2 separate regions of the Homo sapiens genome follow, and region 2 is linked to region 1. The links come from fine-mapping of genetic effects on gene expression. A gene starts in region 1. The other region holds a variant in brackets. All regions are shown on one strand. Distances are from middle to middle.

Region 1 (9,175 bases):
TCCATAAAACTCTTCCTACAGATATAAGTCCAATATCAAGATAAAGAGACAGCAGGTGACCATTCTAACACACACACACACACACACACACACACACACACACACACACTCTTTGTTTGGGACTGGTGCATATGTTGGCAACCACCCAAATGCAGATCATTCAATACAACTCATCAGTAAGCCAGTACTTTATGTCATGTTGCAATTAAACTCTGTATTTGGGGCTGTCTTAATATCCCAAAGGAGGCGGAACTCTTAACATCTGAGGCTTTTTGCATTTTAAATTTATTTCTAAATTTGGTTCTAAAGGCCAAATAGAACACTGTAGGATGAATGCGGAATATGTACACATGAGCCCTACTTCAGAAACATGATGTAATACAGAATAAATATATTAAACAATAAGTTTAAACAAACATGGTGGTTTAGCTTTTATTAAATTTTCAATGGTTAAACATATGGCAACTCAGCTAGAAAAAAAAGGCAGCACCAATGAGAAACAATAGAAAATTAGCTGTTTACAGAACCAGTGAACATTCCTACATAAATGCAGAAGATACTAATTTAAAACTATATTCCTTAGTTTCTGCTAAAAAGGCAGAGTTGCAGGAGCAGTAACTGAATTCTAAATATGTAGGAAGTTTGCAAACAAACTGCTTTGTGATTTAATTCCCTGCAGCTCAACTCTAGAGAACAAATCCAGTAGAGAGTGAGCTAGTAAGCTAGTAGTCATCTGATAGTGGTTACGGGCTATTATGCAAGATCATGAATCCTTTTCTTTTTTTTCATCTCGTCAGCCAGTACAGAATGAAGGATCATGAATCTTAAAACTGATTTCCTGAGAAGTAATAAGTAATTCAAATGGAGTAAAACTGGATGCATAGATAAATAATACGGTTTCTTACATACTGAGAACTTTGAGTGAGTTATTAAAATTTATAAGGATTGCTGTAGTGCAACGGTATCTGGTACTCAATAATATCTGTCAAACAAATGAGTACATGAACAAATTATTAAGCAGGGCAGGATCCAGCATTGACCATTTTGCTTGAATCCTACCTTCTCTGTAGGTGTTCTGTGAAGTTAAACTTTGTGTAGCTATTATCTATCCTTAAGAATACAGAGACACAGTACAGTGTAGAGGTCAAGAGTGGTAGACCTCGGCCGGGCGCAGTGGCTCTCACCTGTAATCACAGCACTTTGGAGGCCGAGGCAGGTGGATCACCTGAGGTCAGGAGTTCGAGACCAGCCTGGCCAACATGGTGAAATCTCATCCTACTAAAAATACAAAAATTAGCCGGGCGCAATGGCACACGCCTGTAATCCCAGCTACTCAGAAGGCTGTGACAGAAGAATTGCTTGAACCCGAGAGGCAGAGGTTGCAGGGGGCCGAGATCGCACCACTGCATTCCAGCCTAGGCAACATAGCAAGACTCCGTCTCAAAATAAAAAAACATAATAAATAATAATAATAATAAAAAGAGTGGCAGACTTCAACTCAGGACTGCTTTGGTTCATCTCCTGGCTCTATCATTCACTATCTGCATGAACTTAGGCAAGTTTGTTAACTTCTCTATCCCTGCAAAATGAACAGTAATTAGAATAATAATCCTAATCTACATGTAAAGCATTTAAAACAGTGCACAGTAACTGTTCTGTAACTGTTCTATAAATGTCAGTACTTATTACTGTGAAGAAACAGATATTCCAGCACCTTAACAAAGTACACATAATTTACTGTAGGTAAGGCTGGGTCCAGCTTCAGGTCTTGACTCTGTAAGTAGTAACTCCAGAAGTTTTGTCTTTGGAAAAAAATACTTTACAAAATAACAGCAGCCAAAATTAACATTTAGCTAGCACTGAAAATTTACAAAGCACTTTCATATACATCATCTCAATAAAACACTACATAACCCTCCAACTGGTAATTGCCACTTGACAAATGAAGAAACTGAGGTTCAGAGAAGTTTGGAAATGTGAACATTGACAATTTCTATTTCTGAACAGTTTTGTGCCATATACCATAGTTAAGAACCTATGCTAAGAATTATGCTGAACACCTAAAGTAGATGTTTTTTACCCCATTTAAAAAAGACACTAAAGTTAAAGGACTTGTCCAAGGTCACATTAACATGTAACAAAGATAAAACTATAACCAAACTTTCCTCTATGCCATCCCCTGATATCTCATTCTATCAAACTGCTGTTTTGTTATTTGTCTGTCTTTTCTTGAAGGTGTTAAGTTCCTTTTACTTTTCCTTAATCACTGATTAGAGACGCACATTTCCATCATTTCGAGCTTAGATATTTTGGTTCTATCCTAAGAGTGAAAAAATGAGAAAAAAAAATGTTTTTTAAATCAAAGCTGGCCTTAGGCTGGGTGTGGTTGCTTGTGCCTATACAATCCCAGCACTTTAGGAGGCCGAGGTGGGCAGATCACTAGAGTCCAGGAACTTGTGACCAGCCTGGGCAATGTGGCAAAACCCTGTCTCTACAAAAAATACAAAAAATTAGCTGGGCATGATGGCACCCACCTGTAGTCTCAGCTACTCGAGAGGTTGAGGTGGGAGGATACTTGAGCCCAGGAGGCTGAGGCTGCAGTGAGCCATGATCATACCATTGCACCCCAGCCTGGGCAACAGAGCAAGACTTATTTTCTCTCTCTCTCCACATATATGTATATATCAAAGTTGGTCTTTACACACAACTTTTATTTAAATGCATGGCCAATTCAAGTAGCAGTTCTTAATTCCTTCTATAAGATTTTAAAGTAATCTGAGGCCTAAAAATTTTAAGTCTATTTTTTGTTTGGAAGACATGACAATAAATCTGCTCCCTCCTCCCATAACATATGTATTAATCCTTTGATTTACATTCTACTTAGAGTTTGACAATGAACCTGAAGTTGACCCTTCCCCCAAATTTACTGGGCCCTTATGAGGGCCAACTATAAATGTATAATATACTAACAAATACTTTGGTTACTTAGTGTATACTCATGTAAGTGTATACTCATACATTTTTATATATTAAGTCCAGGCTCACTCAATATATACAAGTGTATCAGTATAAGCCTTATTGGGAGATAGTCTATTTAAGATAAGATCTCTCTGGATAGGATACAAAAAGGCAATCGCCATTCCCTATGGACACACTTCAAAGGGGGAAGCTTTCAGCTTGGTTTTTGAATATATATAACCAACTCATTAAGGCTGTGTCAGCTCCTCATTAGCACTCAACTCAGAAAGGGTTTCTTGACTACCTCATGAAATAAGGGGTTTTGATAACTATCCCCCAGGAGTATAAAATAGCTTTCCTATTTACTGGAGAAAGCCACAAAATTAGACTTGTAAAATAGGACAAAGCACCCTTTCATTTTCCAAGTCACTTGGTTGGTGTAAAATTTCCATTCTTCTGCTCCTCAGATCATTAATGAACAAGGGATGCGTTTCAAAGGGTTTAAACAAGCAGACCTGAAAATTCTGTTCAGCTTAGTGTATGAAAATCAGATGTTAGATAGCTTTCTTCCCAGGAGGCTGGGGAACGCTCAGCACCTACCAAGGCTTCCTTCCCTACAGTTAGGACTGAGGTGTAGGCTTCCAGATACACTCGACTGCAGCGTCTAACAACTTCCAGGCCCTTGACTGTGATGTCCTTGGCATCTCCCAGGCCCAACCCGATGAGATAAAGCATTTCAAACTTGAGGAGAAGAGAGACTGCAAGACGAAGTGGACAGAAAAACCGTCAGTAACACCGAGGACATCTAAAATCTAGTGATGAACACGATGACAACCAAAGTAGCACAAGAGAAGAGGCAAGTCACAAGGAGGGGTTTGGGAACCTTATGTCACGCTTAAGAACTGGGATAAGAGGTTTTAAACAACCCTACCAGTTTTGCCTCTTGTTACACAAACCTAGGAGCAGCCAATTACCCGCTGAGAGAATCGTAGGTAGTTCTCTGGCCTTTACAAATTCTTAACTACCACCTTTCCGCAGAAGCAACTGCAAAAGCGCCGGCTCCGTGCAGAGAAAAGGCCCACGCCGCCGGCCTCACCTACGGTGCCGCAAAATGCTGGTGCCTTTACTGCACTTTACGACTAGCGGGAGGGGGCCGGGCTAGCGGGCTACTGGGCTGCGGAGACCAGAGCCCGGCTCCACTGAAGAAACCCGCCGGCTGCTGGGGCAGGGCGGCGAAAGGTCAGTCGGCCGAGAGGAGTCCGTGGAGCCACCGTTTCATAGCCTCAGGGAAAGGATCGGGCGTGCTCACGAGCCCTCTAACCCATGGCTTAAACACCCGCTTCCTAAGCCTGGGTAAGTGCAGTAGCTCTTCGCTCGAGAGGAGCCACGTGGAAGAGAGTCGGGAGGGGCCCTGCGCCCTACTCCTCCTCTCCAGAAACAGGGAGGGCTGGGAAGGATTTTCCTGATTTGTCCCCGGATTTGGCCGAGTGCACAGATTTTAATTCCAGTCTTCTCATCCTCCTGTAGTTCAACTAGGTGTCTTCCTGGTGAAGCGTGAGATTGGCAAACCCAGCAGTGAGTGTGCTTCTGATTTCCCAACAAGGCAATGACTCCTTGGGTTTGTCCCCAAGACCTTATGCCTGGAGTGCCCCAAGGATGTTTCAGTCACCCTCAGTGTCAGGAATCCCAGACCTTCCTGTACCTAAAGAAGTGACCTTTAATAGTGCTCAGGGATTTCAGACCTCTCAAGTGTTTCTGCCGGGGGAATTCTTATAAAGCTGTTGGTTACATGTAATTAGAAATAGGGAAGATTTGTTTTGACTGAAAATGCTCTTCCCAAGGTGACCTCATCCAAGTTAAAAAAGACAGCTGTCATTGCTTTTCTTAGCAGGCAGTGTTGGTTACTCAGAATTTTCCTGTTGCCTCCCCGACAATGCCCAACTCCGCTTCCTTGAACCTTGGCTTTTTTTCATTCCCAGGTTCCATCCACCTTTTTGCACTTCCTATCTATAAACTCTTCGTGGCTGTGTTTTATCCCCTCTCATTACGTTGATCTATTCCTCACACCACATACACACCCCAAAAAACTCAAAATGGATCGTAGATGTAAATGGAAAACCTAAACCTATACCAGAAGAAAACATAGGAGGAAATATTCGTGACCTTATTTAGGCAAATATTTCTTAAACCAAAAGCGTGATGAAAAAAATTGATAAATTGGACTTCAACAAAGTAAAAATTTATGCTCTTCAAAAGACTTGAAGCCACATACTGAAAATATTTACAAAGCATGTATCTGATGAAGGACTTGTATGGAGAATATATAAGGAGCACTCAGAAAGCAATAATAAAACAGTTCGTTGTTTAAAAATGGGCAAAAGATTTGAATAGACACCAAAGAAGATACACAAATAGCAAATAATTATTTTAAAAGATCTTAAACAAACAAAAAAAGATCCTAAACATCATTAGACATTAGGAAAATAAACATTTAAATCACAATGAGCTACCACAACCCACCTATTAGAATGGCTTAAGTAAAACAAACAAAACCTCACAAAAACTGGCTGTTCACTCAGAATTCCTAGTATCGCTAATATTTTGTAGATTCAAATTTCAGCCTCCTATCCAGACTTCCTCCCTCTTGGCTTCATGTTAACGTTCTGCTGGAAATCTTCACCTAGATAACCCGGAAGCATATTCAACACATCCAAGGTTGAATCCATCACCTTCCCTTTCCATTTTGCTTTTCTTTCCATATTATCTACTTGGATGGGTCGGGGGTGGGGGTGGGTGAGGAGAGTATTGTCATCAACAGATTAACCCCAGCCAGACACTTGGGAGTCACCCCCACATCGTCTGTCATGTCTGCCTGTATATCTCAATAGAAACCATACCGTCTATCACCATCTTGATTCTCAGGTCCTCATTTTGTCACTCTTGTAGCTGATAATAATGTCTCCTTCACTCAAGGGGGTCAGAGAGTTATAGTTAACAATCTGAAAATATTACACCCCTTCTAGATCCTTCTGAGGCCAAGAGAAAGTCCAGGTTTGTTAACATACCCCACAAGATCATTCGTGGTGTGGCCACTGCCTACCTTTTTAGCATCATCTCTCTCCACTCCATACCATGAGCTTTCTCGCTTTCTCTCCAGCAATACTGAATTGCTTGTAGTTCTCTGCCCACAACATGCTGCTTTGTTCCTCTACGCTGCTGCCTCATCATAGAATATTGTCTCCCATTCTCTCCTGCCTAGATCACTAATACCCATTCTTTAAGACCAAGTTCAGGAAGCCTTCCCAGAGACCCTCACCCCCCTAAGCTAATTTAGGTTTCTCCTCTTCATTACAGTATTACTCTACATATACTTACTAACCAATTTATGAGATTTTATATTTGTTCATTTGTATTTCTTCTTTACCAAACTATTGATTTAGTTAATTCAGGGACTGCATCTTATTTGTATGCTCATCTTAGGTTTAGCACTATCCCTTGCACATAATAGGTATTAAATAAATGTTTGTTGAATAAATCATTATTATCCACTAGTAGCTGAGCTACGTATTTTTCCATCTTTATTAATACAGAGGGTGGTATGTTTTAAAAAACTACCAAAAAAATCATTAATGGAATATCAAATATAAATATGCCTGTCTCATGCCACTTTAGAAGGTCATTTGTATTGAAAGGCTTGCAACACACAAAACATATAGTTCATATGCATGCTATTGAGTAGGTAAACACATTTTCCAATGTGTTGATCATTTATGTTTTTTGTTTTCAGATTTAAAAAAATAATAATTTCAGGTAGATTCACAGTGCAAGGACACTGCCAAAAAGGATGATTAAGTAATCTGAAGAAGGTGTGGTTTATCTCCTTTCAGGAAATATATCTATATTGAAAATAAAGTTATTCTGGGTAATCAAGGAAGTGAAACATTGCCTGAAATAACAGTAATAATTTGTTTTTAAGCTTCAAAATGTAGCCAGAGGAACTTAGTTTTACCACGGAGAATTCTTAACAAACAAACCTTTCACCTGCCGTTATTTCTCAATAAGAGTGTAAATTTTTTGTACTTTTCTGGAGGTAGACAGATAAAGGGATTATGGTAATCTTTTTTGTTTTTCCTCCTCAGCTCAACAAACATAAGCTGCAAAAATCTTGCCTATTGGATTTTGCAGAATTCTGTGGGATTTGGACATTTTTCCCTTGCCATTTAAAACAGGTTTCAAATGTGATTACATTTTCCCCAACAATTTATTGTGAAAAATTTCAAACATATAGAAAAGTTGAAACAGTGTCACAGTCAACACCCATATAGCCACCTCCAAGGTTCTAAAGTTTTAACATTTTGCTGTTTTTGCTTTATCACTTATTTATCCTTTTACCCAGATGTCAACCCATCTTATTTGTTGATGCATTTCCAGGGAAGTTGCAGCCATCAATACACATATTACATTTTGCTTGAAACATAAACTCCTCACCTAGGTAATAGATTAACAAAACATACCTAGGCATATAGCTGATTAAATGATATCATTGCTTCACCTAATTTAGGCTGGATTTTGAAAATTTTGCTGTAAAACGATTTCAAATTAGTTTTTAACAAATATTATAGTTTTATAATGATAATGAAAGCAGTTAGAGGACAAATTCTTTTATGTCAGCAAATTTGTAGTCTCATGTCTAGCAGAAGAGAGAGTGATGGTTAAAGAGAAAGGTGATTATAGGACAAAAGAAAAAAAGAAAGATTTTTAGCCTTTTTTGGCTTCAAGAATAACATGGATAGATTAGACCTGAAGAGTTTTCTACTTTGTATTCTTGCTTTCAGGTCAGATGATGCCAAGTCATCCCTGAGGGTGAACATTTATGCTTTTATGAAGGATCTTTAAGATGTTTTTATAACCTTTGCCAGTAACTCATTTTTACTGGCAAATTCTTCCTTATATTTGAGACCTACAGTCAGTAGTCATAAAATGTGAGAGAGATGCAGATAGTCATAAGAAATTAATACTGATGGCTTTTCCATTTCATTGTCATAGACACATCATATGCTACTTTTATTCTGAAGTAATAACATAGTTGAGTCACTGCATTACCTTACGGACAAATTATAATTACCTTACATTTAAGAGAAGTCATCCTTCAATTGTCCTGTTTAAGCAGTTTGTGTATTGAAAAGAAGACATCAGGGTGACTGACTAAACTCCATCTGACCTTACTGTGAATGAAGAATATTATTTTACTATGAAGCTGGCCTTTTAACCTACATGTTCCCAGAAATTGCCTTTGTTAGAGGAAATCTTGGTTAATATTTGTAGAGCTCAGACTCTTAATTGATTGAAGTCATTATTTTCTAACAATTCACAAATAAGTGATAATTAAAGATAACATTGCTTTAGGATAAGGACCTGTATTTACTAAGGTTAAAAGATTTGAAGTTACTTTATTGTACACTTGTTTACTTAGAGAAAAAGTCACTTTTTATAAACCCAGTGATTTTAAGTACTCATCCATACATTATATGTTAATCATATGATGTAAAAATGCATAAAAAACAAATCTAGAGCTATTTTCTGTGTAAAGTGTGGAAATTTTTATTGTCATTCATCCTAGCTTAATAGATTGAATCAGTAACAATATGGACTGTCGTAAAGAAGTCACCTAGAGCCCTGCGTTTTTGTGTAAAGGAGCTCCCAGAATGTTCCCTTAAGTGCCTGTGTGTATGTGCATGTATGTGTAAACTTTCTGTTTGTTTCTAACCCATTTTCGTATATGGCAGGTCCTTCCTCCAAAGTCTATTGCTAAAAAGGTAGAATCAGGGATACATAATTCACTCTTTTTGCATTTAAAAAAACTACAGGCCAGGCACGGTGGCTTACGCCTGTAATCCCAGCACTTTGGGAGGCTGAGGCGGGTGGATCACGAGGTCAGGAGATCCAGACCATCCTGGCTAACACGGTGAAACCCCGTCTCTACTAAAAATACAAAAAAATTAGCCGGGCGTGGTGGCGGGCACCTGTAGTCCCAGCTACTTGGGAGGCTGAGGCAGGAGAATGGCCTGAACCTGGGAGGCGGAGCTTGCAGTGAGCCAAGATCGTGCCACTGCACTCCAGCCTGGGCAACAAAGCGAGACTCCGTCTCAAATAAAAAACAAAAACAAAAACAAAAACTTACAGTGTCCCTTTAAGGTTTTTTAGGGAAACATAGCTA
Region 2 (9,175 bases), 49 kb after region 1:
AGTTGCCAATAGTCTTCATGTTGTCTTCCGTTGTTTTCCTCATTTGACCCCCACCTCCTTTCTCTTTCTTCTCTGGTCTTTGAACTTCCTCCACTTTGGGCAGCTGCTTTCATTTGCAGCTCTGCTTTGAGCAAGGAAAAAATTCTGCCAATGAAAACAGGAAAAATAAGAAAACAAGAAGGGTTGCAAGTGTTTTGCATGTGTTGCAGCTCTCCGGCTGTCCACTTTGGGGTCTTCTCACCATTGGGTAGTATACTGAGAAGGAATCTGTTGTTGGAAACTGACCCTAGGTGACCAGAGCTTATCTAAGGGACACTTTTTTTGTCATCTTAGAATCAATAAATTTATAAATCATTTGTGTTAAAAGAACTGTGAAAGTGATATTTTATGTTTACTCACCCACTCCATATTCTGAGGTATATATTTATCATTTGGTCTGGTCAGATCTATGATATTGTCAAGTTACAGTTATATATATATATATATATGACTATATGATGTATATATAATATTTTAGAGACAGGGTCTCACTCTGATGCCCAGGCTGGCCTTGAACTCCTGGGCTCAAACGATCCTCCAGCCTCAGCCTCCCAAGTAGCTGGGACTACAGGCGCTTGCCACTGTGCCCGGTTATAATATTTTTGATTAAGACATTTGAGAGGGAGAGAATATGGCCTTTTTTTTTTTTTAACTCTCCTTCATTCCCTACAATACACACAAAAACCCCCACAGGGCAGGAACTTCTCTAACTTTCTCAGAGTAGTATATGATAGATATGCATGTACAATACATGAGAGTACTTCATAAATATTAGTTCATGGAGATAATGAAGAAAACATCTTTTCTAAGTCAAAAAATAGGAAGCAAATTCTTAATAGTTGCTGTTATTATGCCAATATGCTTGAGTTTGAAGTTTAGTGAGATCTTTTTTGAGTGGCTAAAAAAGGGAAGAGATGTAAGTCTTGTCTTCGTTGATAAAACATCAGGAGGATAGATTGATGGTGGTATCTAAATAATATACTCAAAATTAGAGTGTAGTTTCTGCCTTGGCACATCTGTCTTGTTTCCACTTCTTTGCTTCCTCCTTTTTCCACAGTATCCACTGCAGCACCACAGGATAGCTCCCCAGATAAGGCAGCAATCTAATGGGGCAGCTGTAGATCTCTGTGTTAGAATTAAGAAAGGAGTATTTGTCATTACTTATGTAACCCACTCTGCATCCACACTGACATATATAGCTGAATGAAGAAATCGCTCAAGCAAAATGTTGCCTCCCTTTGACCTTGTCTGAGTGCCATTCATTGTTGTTATCAGAGCTGAACAGTAAATGGCAGGAACCACATAAGAGTTGTAAACAAGTACACATGAGAAAAAGAAGTAACTGTATTTGCTGAGTCAAGATCCATGTAAAGGAGAGGATCACATTTCCCTTTCTTGGAAACACTTGAAAATATTTACAGTCTCAAGTTCAATTTAAAATATTCTTATTAAGTGTCTACTCTGTGTTAGACTCTTCACTAGTAACTGTGAATACAGAGATAATGAAGTATCTTGCTCATGGAAGAACTCACAGACTAGACTTATGATAACCTCTCTTCTCCTTAGAATTTGGAGGACTTTAGATGGTTTCCCCTAGATTTTTGTTTTGTTGCACAGTGTTACTCTTATTCTCTTAATCTCTAATGAAAAGCCTATTTGGTGGTATAGTACGAGTCCTAATGATGAATGAGTCCTAATGATAAATAAGACATCATTAGGACTTCTACTTTTTCAGTCTGTTTTACGAGTCCCACTCCACTAGACTGGGACCTTCTGGAGGGCAGGTTCCAGAAGGTCCCAGTCTAGTGGAGGAGTGAGACTTGTAAAATGGAAGTTATAGTACAATTTTTATAGAAATGATCAAATCATATTCTTTCTGAAACACTTAACTTCTGAGATTGATAGATCTTACCATTTAAATGAGTATACACATAAGGTGTTGTAGCATTGTATCTGGCAGACTGAGAGGACATAAAAGATGTTAACTACCTGCTTTACCATTATTACCTTTACCTTTCCTGTTTCACTGTTCTTATGCCAGATATTGAATACAAATCTAGCCCTTCCATATTTGACCTCTTTAAATGTCTCATTAACAAATGTCAGTCTACTTTCTAGGTGACATGAGACTCCTTATGTATCAGCATATCATTATCACTTCTGTTCTTCCACAGTTCCTGAATATATCACATGTGGTGATAAACATGAAGATGTATGAAAAATTGTGTTCGTTGAGAGAAAATGGAAGGCTTTTCATTCTACTTCCACATTTTCATTCCAGCAGCTTTTCTGTTTTGGAAGATGAGTACTGAATCTTGCAATGAAATTTTTTTAACTTAAACAAGGTATATTTTAGCGTGTTCCGCTATGGATGACTGTCTGATGCCGTCATGAATATTCAATTAACTTTTATTTTATTTTTATTTTATTTTATTTATTTATTTATTTTTGAGATGGAGTCCCACTCTGTCGCCCAGGCTGGAGTGCAGTGGCATGATCTCGGCTCACTGCAACCTCTGCCTCCTGTGTTCAAGTGATTCTCATGCCTCAGCATCCTGAGTAGGTGGGACTACAGGCATGTACCACCATGCCTAGCTAATTTTTGTATTTTTAATAGAGATGGGGTTTTACCATGTTGGCCAGTCTGGTCTCAAACTGCTAACCTCAAGTGATCCACCTGCCTTGGCCTACCAAAGTGCTGGGATTACGGGCGTAAGCCACTGTGCCCAGCCAAATATTCAATTAACTCTTAGATCAGCGTTTCTGAACCTCAGCTCTGCTGACATTTCCAGCCAGATAATTCTTTGTTGTGCGGGCTGTCCTGTGTGCTGTAGGATGTTTGGCAGTATCCCTGGCCTCTACCTACTAGATGACAGCATCCCTGCACATCTCTGACATCCAAAAATGACTCTAGACATTGCCAAATATCCCTGGGGGGTAAAATCATCCCCAGTTGGGAACCACTGCTTTTGATCATCTGGCCATTGATTTTTGGCCAATAGGATGGAGCTATGTGACTACAAGGGTGTGTGGCCTTTCTTCTGGTAGGTGTAGGACTTCAGTCTGCCATGCTCCTTCATATACTCAGTGCCTAATTTGTGCAAGGTAGCAGCAAACCATGAGGAGAAAGGTGGTCCATGTCTTGAAGAAACTCATAGTCTAACAATTTGTAAACTAAGTTGATTTTTCAGGTTTTGGAAATATGCTAGGTGATTCTTGATAATTCTTTGAAGTGGTACCTTGAGCTTCTTAGATAGCTGTGATAAATTTCCAAAGTTGGATATTATTATGTGTTATCAAAATACTTTCAAAGCAGTGGAAAACCCCTATACTTTTCTTGAAATTTTTCATTGAATAGTTGACTCTTGTGTAAGGAATAGATTGAAATTTGCAGCTTTGTTTTACTGGGATATTTGCTTGTTGTTTTAATGTTTAAGCCTTATCCCTCCAAATCTTTTATAAATCAACACTTGTATTGTAGATTTGGAGGATAATAACAGCACCTGTCCTGATACATAGAGTTCTTATTGTTTAGACAGCTGTCTACACTGAACATCAGCTGTCTGTACTCTGATTTCAGGGGTGTGTATGTGATCTAGGTTTGGACAATAAAAATATTGAACCCTCCTTCCCTGGACCTACAATTGTTTAAGGGAAGGAGACATGCAAAAGTTGGTATAAATTTCAATTCTAAAAGAATAATTGTACAATAAAAAATCTTACAATCGTGTAACTGAAGCTAACGTAAGTGTTCAGCTTACTATCAAGTACATAAAAACTTTAAAAATCCTTTAAAAATAACAAAAAATTCCAAATACTGTAATTAAGCATTTGATTCATTTAAAATCAAGTATGGAGCAACATACAATATAGCATTTAATATCACATTTGAACTGGTAAATCACTAGGACAACTTAGTTAAATAGTAATAAAAGAATTAATCCCCAGGATTATAGCATTTCTGTGGCATTTATCTAGTCCTTTGTACATAACAAAGTGATTCAGCTCTTCATTCATAAAACTGTGTTAGGAATCTGAGTTGTATGGTTTTCTGTGTGACAATTTAGACATTTTAGTCTTTGCATTCCAAAAACACTAGGAAAGTTGTTATTTGTTTGAAACAGATTCCAATGATCTGTTCTAATTTATTCTGATGAAAAGGGTAAAGGGAAATTTCTCTGACTTCTAAACTAACTTGAGAGATTTTCCTATTGCCTCAGTCTGTCCTCCCACCCCTAAGGTACATAGAAAGACAGATATGTGTGTACACACTATAACATTGTTTAAATGATACTCATATTATTGTTCTGAAATAGCCATACTTTAAATGATTTCAGATAATTGGCTTCAGTTTTGCTAATATAATTTATGTAAGTCATATGGCTAGGTCAAATTTAATAGAAAATTTGGGAAGAAAGATATTTAAAAATATATTTTATGATGAAAACTATCTTGATAAATTTCCTTGTTTATTTTATATGATAAAAATCATTGGTTGCTCCCTAATAAAATATCATTT[C/A]ACTTACATTACAGTGCTGGGCATGTATTACAAGTTGCTCATTTTTAGAGCTAATTTATGTAGCATATTTGCATGTGTGTGTGTAAAAGATTGTGACAGAGATAAGAGAAATAAGTGAAACGTTCACTTATTCACAATATAAGTGAATATAATCTATTAATATTCAAATTAAAAACTAGATAGCAAGTCAGTAGTTCATTTAGTTGAGAAACTTAGGGGAGGATGGGCAACTAACAATAACGGTACTATTATTATCATTCCTTTTTTACAGACAAGGAAAATGAAGCGCAGAGACGTTAAATAACTCTCTCAAGGTCATGCAGCTGAGAAGAGATGAGACTTGAACTCCAGTGCCAGCCCTGTTAATCACTATTCTGTACTGTCTTTCAGGTTCTTATGCCTTTGTTTGAAAAACATGGTTCCCTGTGAAATTTTACATGTAGAAGAAAGCTTCACACTACGAGAGCTCTCAGGATATAATTATTTCAGACAGATACTGGGAACATAAGATGGCTTATCAATCTAAGATGGCCTTCCTGTCCTTCGGATTGAACTGAAACCATCCCTGATTCCAGGGATAGGTAGATGATCCAGGTTTGGACAATCAAAATATTGAACCACCCTGGACCTACAAGTGTTTCTGGGATGGGAACATGCAAACGTTGGTCCAAATTGTTGTTCTAGGCAGCCCAGTACATTTCTCCAATGCCTGGTAAGCTCTAAATATCTCTAAATGTTTGTTGCAGAATGAATGAGAATAAAAGTATTCTCTTAGAACATATCCCTGACATTAGGTGTGGGATAAAAGTGGAAAATGCAGTTTGCCTCATAAAAATAGCTTTCAGAAATGACTTTTCTACAACAGCCATTCACCAGTATTCTAAAGGGCACCTGTCAAGGAGTCACTGCATTTTCAAAAGTACATTTATTTTCACATCACTGGCCAAAGTTGATCTATTATCATCACATTAGGCCCCTAGTATAGAGATGGCCCCTAAATTAGAAGCAGATTTGAATTGTTGAGACCTAAAAGCTTAGTTCCCTTAGAAGACTTTTTACCTGAGGGCAGGAGGTATAGTGAGGATCACCTGCTTTGAGTCATACTGGCCTGAGGTTGAATCATAACTTTGAAGTCAACTGAGGAATTGCATACTATGCATAGCATGACCAGCGGCATACTATGCAATTCCTCAGTTGACCGAGTAATTATACCCACCCATAGGATTGTTTTGTGAGTTAAAGGAAAGCTATATATACTTACATAAAATAAGCTGTATTATTTTACTTTCTTTTACAACTCTCAGTTGCAGGGATAAAAGGGAAGGAAAGAAGGGAGGGATGGAAGGAAAGAATAATGGAAGGAGGAAAGGAATTATAAAAGAAAATTGGCTAAAAAAATTAACTCATTACTAAAATATTAAGGGTTCAAACAGTATTCTCAGGACTTGGTATCTGCATTTCTACAGCCTATTTTTCTTAATACTTGCTTTAACTGTCAAAGGAGTTATTTCCTAATGTCATCCTTTAGCAACTCTAAACTTACATCTTGCCATTTTCTAATATAACATAAAAAAGAGCAACTCTCCCTGAAATACCTATAGAAGTCTTGGCCTCACTTTGATGAGACAAACTTGCATGTTTCTGTTCCTAAAACAACTGTAGATCCAGGGGGGTTCAATATTTTGATTATCCAAACCTAGATCACATGCCTGTCCCTGAAATCGGATAGTTTCAGCTCAATCCAAAGCAGGGGGACCGAAGGCACAGGAAGCACGGTTGTCCAAAGAAAATTGTTGATAGTGTTACCAAAAGAAAGGGGAGTGAATGTTAGATGGTAAAATCAGAAAAAAATGTCCACTACACTGTCACTTAACTAAATAGCAGTTATTATTGTGTTTTGTGCCACTTACAGATTCCTATTAAACCTACTACTACATTTTAAAAAATCGCTCTATTTAACAACTTTATTCAGAAAATATATTTAGATTTCCAATTTGGGATATTGCGATACATCTTCTACCTTTGCTTCAAGATGAATATAATTAGCAGGAATTCCTTAACAGGCCTATGTGGAACTCTCATTTAACTTTTATGAGCCTCAGTTTTCTTCCCATTGTCTAGAGAGTTACCCAAACAATTTTCTTTACTTTTGGCCAAGGTATCTCTGCTCCCTGCAGAATATAACAGATTGTTGTCTTATAACTTTTCTCCTTTTCTCTTGTTCCAGAAGCAACAGTTACTTCTTTTAGGCTATTTTCTGTTTTTGTTTGGTTTTGTTTTGTTTTCTTTTCCCTCAAACTGCTAATAACTATATACATACCACTACTTCTCGCTTCTCTTTTTTTACTTTGGCTCTAGATGGAATGATAGGGTATGCATAAATGTTCATGTGGGCTCTGGAGTATACCAGGAACTGAAGTAAGGTACATGGACGTCTTGAATATTGTAACTGAGATGGGCAAGCCTACACCTTTGCAAATAAAGGAGGATTGGGAAAGATTAAGGTGAGCTTTCTCGCAAACAGATGGGTCATGGGAATAAGGAATTCTGAATGCATGAACAGTGATGCTGAAAAGCAGGGGGTCTTCAAACTATACTCAAGGGCCAAATCATTGCCTCTTTTTATAAGTGAAGTTTTATTAGACTACTGCTCCACCCATTCATTTAAATGTGGTCTATGGCTGCTTTAGGACTTAAAATGCCAGAATACTTGTGACAGAAACCTTCTGGCCCTCAAAGCCTAGAATATACACTATCTGGCTCTTTAAAGAAGTTTGCCAACACCTGCTCCATTGTAAGGAGGATATTAGTCGGGTTCTAACAGAATTGCTTGTTGAACTAGGGTTTAAAACACATGGTAGAGACTCCACTGCCATAACCAGAGAGAAGACTGCCAAGAATTAGGCTAACTTGTTCTCAGGCAAAAAGGCTACGTAAAAGGCAGAATCTCAGTTCTGCAGGGCCAGTGCAGGAGGTGAGGAGGCAGGGGTTACACTGGTGTCCGTGGGTCATTGTTCATGCAATGGATACTCGGTCTGGTTGAGGGATACATGCAAGGCTAGAATTTGTGCTGAGTCACCAGATTTAAGATCTGGGAAAAAATAATGTACATTTCTTGACTTCAAAGACGTGGGGGCCATTAATCCAGATTTTACCCTTGTTGAACTAACTCAGGAATGGAAAACACTCTTGGTGAGGAAATGGGACACTGAATAGGGATACTTCCTACCAGCCCAAGACTAGGGTTAGGGAAGGACTCACTTATTGGTAAGAAAGGATTTTTGCCTCTACAGACCTTTACTTAGACCTGTACTTAAATGAGGTAAGAAGTGAGAAAGCAATATTTCTCAAGTGCCTACAAACCTGAGGAGTCTTTTTCCATTTGTATGTTACTCAAGATCTCAAAATGCCACAGCTCTTTAAAAGGGCTTCTTCTCTCCTTTGTATTGGTGGCTTGCAACATGCTATTTGAATCTTTCAGCAGGCTGACCTGTTTGGCTAATGCTATAACCCAAATTAATTGTTCTTTCCTCTATGTTTTTATTTATTTATTTATTTATTTATTTATTTATTTATTTATTTTTTTGAGACAGAGTCTCGCTCTGTTGCCCAGGCTGGAGTGCAGTGGCACCATCTCGGCTCACTGCAAGCTCCGCCTCCCGGGTTCACGCCATTCTCCTGCCTCAGCCTCCCGAGTAGCTGGGACTACAGGCGCCCGCCACCACGCCTGGCTAATTTTTTGTATTTTTAGTAGAGACGGGGTTTCACCGTGTTAGCCAGGATGGTCTCAATCTCCTAACCTCGTGATCCGCCCGCTTCGGCCTCCCAAAGTGTTTTTATTTGATCTTATCACAGTAGTCAGCATATTTTGCCTTGTATTATACTTATATGTGTACATGTAGTCTTCCCCCAGACTAGCCATTACTTGAGAGCAAAATTTTAGCCTTATCCGTCTAAATATCCCCCAAGTGCTTATCTAGTGAATGCCTAATTGTAATGCCTATTGACTTAAATGGAATTTAATTAAATGGGGTTTGTTATATTCTGCTAAGACTGTAGTAGATGTAGACACAAGTCTGATTCTTTTCTTATAACTACCATTTTCCCCTGTTATGGATATATCAAATTACTTACCACCCTTAACATCTCCTCCAGATTAATTTGTCTTGTGTAAGCCCCTAGTTGACCAAAGCTGATGGCTGATTAAATTCCCCCAAGGGAACTCAGCCACACAGCCACATAGGTTTTTTTTCTTTTTTGGTTGCAAAAAGCAGAAAGGTGCGTATGCAACAGAGACCATCTTAAACACGAGAATTATTAGAGTAGCTCACAGAAAGGTATCACTGAACAAGCAAGCTTCAGGAGGTTAGAAACCAGGACAATTCTGAGGACTCGAGCATTGAGAACTCATGAACTCTTTGACCCAGAGCACCCCAAGGCACCTCCACTTAAGACTCAAATTCGAAGGATCTGTGTAAGCCAGCTTGATTCAATAATCTAATTCTGTGCTCAGGAAACAGGTGGTTCCTTTTTTTTTTTTTTTAAATCAGAATTTGGAGTTAAGAGGATGCAGGGAGAGTGGTAGACAAACGGAAACAAGTGTTACCATAGCAATCT

The links. PIP is the estimated chance that this variant, and not a neighbour inherited with it, causes the effect.
Region 2: its variant is fine-mapped to the expression of DPH5-DT in whole blood (INTERVAL, PIP above 0.99).

The regions. Positions count from the first base shown.
Region 1 is chr1:101,021,751-101,030,925 of GRCh38, forward strand. DPH5-DT (DPH5 divergent transcript) reads left to right here and starts at 4,096. Exons shown (of 5, transcript NR_109849.1): 1 at 4,096-4,311. DPH5 (diphthamide biosynthesis 5) reads right to left here and starts at 4,034. Exons shown (of 8, transcript NM_015958.3): 1 at 3,933-4,034; 2 at 3,559-3,716; 3 at 1-15. The coding sequence starts at 3,693. RefSeq lists enhancers at 3,564-4,763, 3,856-3,965 and a silencer at 5,757-5,816.
Region 2 is chr1:101,070,447-101,079,621 of GRCh38, forward strand. It overlaps DPH5-DT (DPH5 divergent transcript), which reads left to right. Exons shown (of 5, transcript NR_109849.1): 2 at 4,949-5,270; 3 at 6,917-7,062. Among named protein-coding and RNA genes, the nearest start is that of DPH5-DT, 49 kb to the left of the region's middle. The variant C/A (reference allele first, on the strand shown) is at 4,559.